Linked DNA regions of Homo sapiens: region 1 is linked to region 2. The links come from fine-mapping of genetic effects on gene expression. A gene starts in region 2. The other region holds a variant in brackets. All regions are shown on one strand. Distances are between the middles of the regions.

Evidence for each region. PIP is the estimated chance that this variant, and not a neighbour inherited with it, causes the effect.
Region 1: its variant is the best candidate, but not a certain one, in a credible set for the expression of MARCHF6 in whole blood (TOPMed, PIP 0.66).

Annotation. Positions count from the first base shown.
Region 1 is chr5:10,425,135-10,429,526 of GRCh38, reverse strand. MARCHF6 (membrane associated ring-CH-type finger 6) reads right to left here. Exons shown (of 26, transcript NM_005885.4): 24 at 3,005-3,137. Among named protein-coding and RNA genes, the nearest start is that of ROPN1L-AS1, 15 kb to the left of the region's middle. The variant T/C (reference allele first, on the strand shown) is at 1,897.
Region 2 is chr5:10,351,613-10,356,004 of GRCh38, reverse strand. MARCHF6 (membrane associated ring-CH-type finger 6) reads right to left here and starts at 2,310. Exons shown (of 26, transcript NM_005885.4): 1 at 2,088-2,310. The coding sequence starts at 2,106. MARCHF6-DT (MARCHF6 divergent transcript) reads left to right here and starts at 1,948. Exons shown (of 3, transcript NR_183261.1): 1 at 1,948-2,033; 2 at 4,232-4,392. RefSeq lists enhancers at 1,074-1,645, 2,492-2,751 and silencers at 1,702-2,171, 2,212-2,351.

The DNA of each region.
Region 1 (4,392 bases), 74 kb before region 2:
CTCAGGAGGCTGGGGTGGGAGAATCGCTTGAACCTGAGAGGTGGAGGTTGCAGGGAGCCGAGATCAATCAAGCCACTGCACTCCAACCTGGACAACAGAGTGAGACCCTGCCTCAAAAAAAAAAAAAAAAAGGAACTGGACGAGATGACTTCTCATGTTCCACAAGCAGTGGTGTCATTGATACATTTCTACTGCACCACAGTTTAAAGAAGCAAAACCAAAACTGTGCTTATATAATAAAAAAATCCTCAAACTTTTAGAACACACATGTATTTATTTTTCTATATTTAACTCATGAGTTTTAATACTTCTTTGGCAGAGGGGACTGGGGGGCTTTAAAATCAGAGCAAGTACTTTCGAGGAATTCAGAAAATTAATACCGTCAGGTGGATTATTCCAAACACCACAATAGTGTGCTGTGCATAAGCTCTGGAGCTGAGTTTGAAATCTGAATGCTGCTCTTACTCCTTAAAAACCAGACTTTGGGGTAAGATTCTCAATCTCTATGAACCTCAATTTCCCATTTCTAAAACAGAGTTGACAAAACATATTAAAAAGCTACCCTAAGAATAACATGTAAGAATTACATAAAGCATCTAAACAGGGCAAAACAGGTACCAACATTTTTCATTTGCCACTCTTTTTCCCTTCCAAAGTCTTTCCAGAAATGCTCACAATAAAATTTTTAAAAATGAAAACATGAATGACTGGGTTGGAAATCCAAATTCTTAAGTCTATATACTATTAATGGGCAGAACATAATATATGCTAATTAGAATAAAAAAGAAAATAGGGCATTCCTACTCTAGACAAAACCAGTAAAGAGATTGTTCTAAAGAGTCAAAATAATTTAATTTTAAAGACGTATTCAACTAATAAGCAATGCGCTGGGTGTGGTAGCTCATGCCTGTAATCCCAGCACTCTGGGCGGCCGAGGGGGGTGGATTATCTGAGGTCAGAAGTTCAAGACCAGCCTGGCCAACATGGTGAAACCCTGTCTCTAACAAAAAGACAAAAATTAGCTGGGCATGGTGGCGCATGCCAGTAGTCCCAGCTACTCAAGAGGCTGAGGCAGGAAAATCGCTTGAACCCAGGAGGTGGAGGTTGCAGCGAGCCGAGACTGCACCACTGTACTCCAGCCTGGGCAAAAGAGCGAGACTCCGTCTCTCAAAAAAAAAAAAAAAAAAAAAAAAAACTAAAAAGCAATGGGCTTTGAAATATATTTTGCAGGAAATATATATTTGCATTTTAATATGGTATTTATGATACTTGGCATAGTCACAATTCAAACCAAATAAAAGCCTTGAAGTTTCTACTTAGAAGGAACCAGGAAATGATGCAGTTTGCACACTGTGGGCCCTCAGCTTAACTGTTCCCTGTTTCCCATGCCATCCTGCAGACTGAGGGATACATTGCTCAGCCTCTCTCTATACAAACCTGTGTTGAGCAATTTTTTTTTTTTGAGACAGGGTCTTGGCCTGTTGCCTGGGCTAGATTGGAGTGTCACAACCTGAGGTTAGCCCTGAACTCCTGGGTTCAAGCAATCCTCCTGCATCAGCCTGCAGGGCAGCTGAGATTACAGGTGTGCGCCACCACTCCCAGATAATTTATTTTTATTTTTTTTAGAGGTTGGGTCTCGCCATGTTGCTCAGACTGGTCTTCAATTCCTGGCTTCAAGCAACCTCCCACCTCAGCCTCCCAAGTAGCTACTGCACATGGCTAATATCTTTACTGTCTAAGAAGCAATGAGACTATTAGAAGTCAAACCAGTGGCAAAAGGTAAAGAAGGGCACACACACAAAGGGCTTCCAAAGGGCTGGAAAAGTTCTATTTCTTGACCTAGTAAGGTAACATACAAGTATACATGTTACACTGCAAGTTTGGTTGTGTGTTTTT[T/C]TTAAGCTCCTCTCTCACGGTTAAAGGGAGGACGGGGTCATTTCTGGCAGATGGATAAGACAAATGAAAATGTGGAGACAGTTATGGAGAGGACATTGTGTGTTTGATAAGAGGCCATTCCATGGTTGTTTAATCAAAACTCAGAGTATATGACATGGAGTGAGGTCAAACTGAAGCCCACATCAAAGCAAAAGGAGGAGCCTTGTAAACTATGCCAAAAGGTTGGACTGCATTAAAGGCCACAGAGGAACCAATGAAAAAAATGTTCACCAAAGAGGTACAATGAGATTCATTCTTTTGAAAGGTCATTGTGCCCAGTGTGGAGAAGGAATTAGTGATGGCAGGTTCAAGGCTGGGAAACCAGATAGGAAGGTGCCAAAGTTAGGGTAGGAGACGAATGACTCAACAAAAGTCAGGAGCAAAGGCTCCAGAGACGAGAGACCAGATTCTTCAGGGAAGAATGGGACACTTGGAGACCAGAGGGACATGGAGGACAGAATAAGGTGACATGGATAGCCTTCAAGGTTTCTGACTTATGCAATTTGTTGGATGATAATGTTTGCTGCTGAGAGACGGAATTCTGGAGAAGAAAAAGATTTGGGAAGGAAAAGTCTCTGCTTATAATTTTGAAAATATGTTGGGTTTAAGGAGCTATGAGGAGTCTTCACTACACAATCAACAAGACAGTGTATTTCAGTATAAACGTGTTGCCCATTAGCATCTCCTCTTTGGATCTTTTATGCCAAAGAATATTTCTTTAAAACTTAAATACAACAACACTGTTACTTAATTTTATATGATCACAGCACTTCTAGTCAGAAGAAGACAACCTGAAGGAAATCTGATCCTGCCTATTTTGTACAGCATGTAAATTTCAAGTTTTATCTTCTGGTAGAGAAAAGAACTGTATCAAAGAGCTTTATGATCCTCTAATCTTACCCAGAATAGTCAAATCTAAGAAAAGTGGTATTTTGAAATCATTGTCTTAGCTGGATTCACATTTACAAATAAAGCATATGGAGTGAGACATCCTTTTTACTAGGGGTAAAGAGAATGTCCAATGTTAATAAAAGTGCTCCTTCAAGGCTCCACAACCAGCATTACGTACCTAGTAAAGGAACAACACCAGAAGCTATGACATAAGGTACACACAGGGAAAGCAACAGCACAGAGATCACGGGAGCTGCCAGTTTACGAACAATATAGTGAAGGTCAATGTTCCGGATGCCATTTGCGTAAACCTGAAACATTACAAAAAGCAATTAGAACAAAGATACAAGACAAATTCCTCCAAGTTAATACAGCAATCTCCACACAACTGAATCTGCCAACCCAAAAATAGTCAAACTGGTTACTTCTTCTAAAGTCAAGGCAAATTCTGGTATATCAACATAAGCATAGTGCCCACGAGTTTCTGAAGAAATGTATTTACCCACTAACGCTCTGCAGTTAGCTCTGCTAAGTGATGAAATAAGACACTAATCTAGAATAATTTATACTCTACTTGCACTATACAATACCAGATGACATTCAGTGGTATTCATTCAAGACCACATTACTTGAAGTAACTTCATACATCTTATGAAAGAGATACGTAATATGTAATATTGTGTTATTATACAATATTGCATTCATTTTATCTGAGTATGATGAGAAAACACTGAAGCAGGAAGCGTTTCTGAAAAGCTTGCATAAATCAAATTTTAACAAATCAAAAGGTATTTAAAAATTTAGTATGAAAGAATTCTATAGTGAATATAAAAAAAGCAAGTCCAAGAATTACTAGAATATTTCCATCATCTTATCCAGAAAATTCTACAAGAGTAATGCAGAGGAAAGAATGGATGGAAATGGGAAAACCCTGGGAACAGAAAATTTAGATGGAGTGCAGACAGAAACAAGGCTTAGAAGGCTGTTATTTTCTTCTCCTCTTGCCTCACCAGCAGCACTTAAACCTCTCTTAGCTGTGACTGAATGTAGCATAACTCAACCCCATCACCTCGGAATTTGAATGGCAAACATGCTTAACCTTTTAAAGGCATGCTGCCATTCCCAAAGACACCTAGTTAACCCAAATGCATTTTAATCAATGAAGCAAGGCATCCCAGTGTTTCTCAACCATTTCCAACCATTTTTCTTAAATTTACAGAGACACACACGCACATACGCAAGAGAAAACAATGAATAAGATAACAAATTATTTAGAAGATCAATGATGTTCCACAGCCTCCAGTATGAATAAATCCCATCTCCATGCTCCTTTTTCAAGGGCCAGAGGCTAACCTGGCCATTCTAGAGTGTACTGGCCTGCACTCTGATCCTGAAGGGATATGAAGCCAGAAGCCCCCAATCCATCACACTCCTGGTGGACTTCAGAATTAGCCCATACTTTAGAGACACACACAAACACACTGCAATTTGCTGGCTCCCTAACCCCCCTACTCCTAAGAATCAAAATCTTGAAATACAGGCACTTTTTGAACAGATTTTCTTGAG
Region 2 (4,392 bases):
GGCACTAAAATTCACTTGCATTTCATGACTAATAATTTCATAAAACAAAATAAAGCAAAATAAAGTTTCCACCAAATTATATAAATGATTCATCCTATAGAGGGAGTGACAAAAATAAATTTCAACATTGGACTTGTAGTATACACTCATAAATAAATAATCTAATTTAAGTGCGACTCTGACAGACATGAGTCTGAATCTTGCCTCTGCCATTTACTACCTGTATTATCCTGGACAAGTTACTTAATCATACTAACCATCAGTTTCCTCATCTGTAAAATGAAAATGCCGACTACCTAACGATGTGAGAGAATTAAATGAAATGTATATAAAGTGTTTAGTAAAGCACATACTACACGTTGAGTCTTCAGCACATGTTATTTTAACAGGCAACAGTGTTCAATAAATAAATGTTATGTATACCTTATCCTGATTATAATTTTACAAGAGAAAAAATATATTTAAGCACTAGAAGTACAGTGAAAATATTTCATGATTCCATACGTGCTTCGAGCGCAATTCCTGAATTACCACAGATTACTGTCACACCATAAAAGTATGCAAGTAGCAATGCCCAGGCCAAAAGAATGAGAATTGAATGTAATACGTCCGTACCTATCCTGTGATAAATACATGCCTTACTAGATTTACTCATTAAAACCTGAATCTAAAAGGATGTGAAACCTATGTAGATGGAAATTTACACGCAAGGACCACCTGTCAAAAAGAAATAGTTCGCAACCTTCAGCAGTTTCGCTTTACTATTTTTTCCAAAGGCGTCTCCAGTGGCGATTAGCTACACTCAGTGTATATAATAAACACACTGTGGCATAATGAAAGGGAAATTACTTGCAATCAGAATGCCTAGGTTCAAATCTGCCTCTTACTACCTGTGTAAAGCTTCGACAAGCTATTAAAATAACGAAGCCTACATTTCCACATCTATAAAAGATAATACCTACCTATTCCACAGGCTTTTTACGAAGATGGAACGCGAATGTACATCAAGTGCCACATGTTATAGTTGAGGTATTTATTAAAGGCAAGACTTCTTTAAAAAAAAATAAGTCGTTATCAACTCATTACATAGATAATATCAAACTTTTTTCACTCATTATTGCACTCCATGACGGCGTTTGATAATTCATTTTCGTTTAAAATCGCCAAAATCGCAACCCATAAGGTTGAAAGACGCTCATACCCCCATAAATATACCTAAAGTAGAAAAGCATTTGCACGATAACCGGAACATCAAAAAAAGCAAAATTTAGTAATTTCCTCTATAAACTCACCACTCATTTAAAAACACAGCTGGTTAAAAATAATCTACTACCTTCAGTGGGTAAGAAAATGCGTTTGAAGAGACATAAGGTGTGGACGTTTATATCTTAAGTATTCATTTTACAAGGGTCAGTTTGTTCAATGTAACCGTATCCAAAACACAAGCAATCGCAAAACAAAACAAACAGAACCCTGCTTATAGGTGTCAAGGATTTAAAACCAAATGGATCGCAACAAAAGAGCCTCCCCGTTTAGTAAACAGATTCTCGAGCGGCAGGCAAGCCGAGGACCAGGCTTTTCAACAGGGGTCAGCTCACTCCACTCGGCCGTCATCTGGCGGGGTATTTTTCGCGAAGTTTCAAAGTCAACAAAGAAGTTCTGTCGCGAGGGGGTAGGGCCTGGCGAGCAATAGGCAGAAGGACGTAAAGAAAGACAAAACCCAGTGGGGGAAGGGTGCGGAAAACGCCCCCGGACGGCAGCGACAGAGGCCCCCTTTTCTGGGCCAGCGCGCGACGGCGGGGACAAGGGAGGCCACGCCGGCCTGCAGTAGCCCCGAGGCCCCGACCCCGGCCCCGGCCCCTGCCCGGCAGGGTCCCCGCCCCCCTCGGCGGCGCGGGCGGGAAACGGCGGGGGGCGCGCAGAGGGTCACCTTCCGCTCCCCGGCCCAGAGGCCCAGCGGGTGGACAAACGGCCCAGGCGTCCGCCCCGCCGCGATCCAGCAGCCCACCTCGAGCGCCGCGGACCTGGCCGGGGTACGAACCCGGGCGCCGACGCAAGGGCTCGGGCGCCGCGCGTCGCCGACTTACCTTCCTCCGCGGTGTCCATCTTGTCTGGGGGGGCGGCGGTGACGCAGCCACGAGGCTCCCGCGGCCGGGCGGGGAAAGAGGGAGGGGAGAGGAGGAGGGAGCCGGGCCCGGGCAGGTGCGTACGCTCAGGTGCGAGAGAGGAAGCGAGAGGAAGGAGAGGGGAGAGGGAGAGGGAGAGAGGCTGACAGAAAGCGAGCGACACGGGAGGGGGAGGGGCGGGAACACCTAGGGGCGAGGCCTGGGCGGGGCGCCGAGGCGGAAGGGGCGGGAGCTCCCCAACGACAGGCGCTGTCACTTCCGGCGGCCGCGGCGTGCACTGTCGGTCGGCGGCTAAGGAGGGGAGGCACCTGCATCTGGGGCGCGGCGAATCCTCGCGTGCGCCAGGCCGCCTGGGGTAGTCGCCGAGACTGCGCCGGCCAGCGGGGCCGAAACCTAATCAGGAGCTGAGCTTTGATGGCGGCTTCTGGAGGGACAAAGAAGGCGCAGAGCGGTGGGAGGAGGCTGCGAGAACCTAGCTCCCGCCCCAGCCGACGTGCGAGACAAAGGCCCCGGCGCGGGGCTCTTCGGAAGGCCGGGAGGTTCCTGTGACAATGCGAGTCTGCGCCCCACGCTCCCGCACCGTGATGCCGAGGCCAAATGGCTAGAGTGGGCCCAGGCATCAGCATTTCTGTTTGGCAGCCGGGCAGTTGTGGTGCACGTTTTGAGGAACTACTAAAGCCTGCCTGTGATGAAAAAGGCAAAAGCTGACTTCACCAAAATTACTCCCAGGGAGACTTCTGCATTTGGCTGGAAGGACATTTGAGTAAACCGCTGAGGCTGGTGGTTGAAACATAATCCTCTAAGGGAGATCGGTTCCGATACCCTGAGTTAGGGACGCTTGCCTGGGCAGAGCTAAGGGGAGAATGATCAAAAGCCAAGCTCTGTCCCCGTCAGCACGTCACCCTCCCTCACTGTAATCCCTGACTGTTTTCTCTAAATGAAGAATTATTTAGAGAATATAAATTAGAAGGGCCGCCACGTCAGAATTGCCTGAGTGGGAGCAGTCTTTCCAGCCTCGAAAAATGTTTAAACAATATGCAGATGACCTAGCACAAATAAAGAATGCTAGCAACCGCTGTTATGTGTGAGCGGTGGAATTGGGAGGGCTCTTCCCCCAATCTTCATCAAACAGAGTAAGGTTTAGAATAAAAATAATGAAATACAGTCTTTCAAAAAGAGCAGCGCTTGACTAATGTTACTGATGTCACTCATGTTACTCAAGGGAGGAAAGAACTCAAACTCTACATAATAATACCCACTGATTTCAAGGGCTGGCACGGAGAATTAAGCAGACCGCCATTCTTTATATTTGTTTTTTTGTTGTTGTTTGCTTATGATTTTTTTCTTTCTTTTTTTTTTTTTTTTTTTGAGAAGGGGTCTCGCACTGTCACCCAGGCAGGAATGCAGTGGCGCGATAATGGCTCACTGCAATCTCACTATATTGACCAGTATGATTTTCAACTCCTGTCTTTAAGCGATCCTCACGCTTCGGCCTCCCAAAGTGCTGGGGTTACAGACATGTGCCACTATGCCCTGCCTAAATATGTTTATATATACTACCGCCAAAGAAACAATTTGAAGACGATCTTTCCCCAGCCCCTCTCCTTCTGATCCAACTCCAAGAGCTCACCCTCCCTGTAAGACCTGTAGCAGAGCACGTATTGGCCTGCTGATACTAGGGGCAAAGACCGGGCCGATCAGATGTTACATGGCATAAGGGCGAAGGATTCTGAAAGAAAGACTGAGACTTGCTGGAGGAAGTACTAGTAGTGCCAAGGGCAGGTATGTGACCCTCGGAGCTGCAGAGCCAGGTTAGGATGAAGGGAATGTGTGTGTATGGGGGGCGTGGAGGAAGCCTTCCTTTTGTATTTAGGTGCCTTCCCTTGTGATGTTCAAAGGAAAGTTAACCTGTCAACCAGTTTTCCCTTCTGCATAGTAATTCCTTCTGGAATTGCCCTAACCTTTTCGCATTCAGACTTTAGGCGTTAAATATAAGAGTAATAAACCAACATTTGTTGAGTCCCCACTGTGAGTCAGGCACAAGTTCTCACAACAGCCCTTTGAATACATGAATCAGTCACACCTCTCTTGGTTGCCATTGACAGGAACTCAACTGTTAGGCAGAAGGGAGGAATGTACTGTTGATATGGACAGACTCCAAGAAGGGGAGGGACTGCTGGGACTACTAGAACGAGAATGCCTCTGCCCCTATGGCTCAGCTCTGCAACTCTCTCTGCACATTGGCTTCATGCTGTTAGACCAGCTT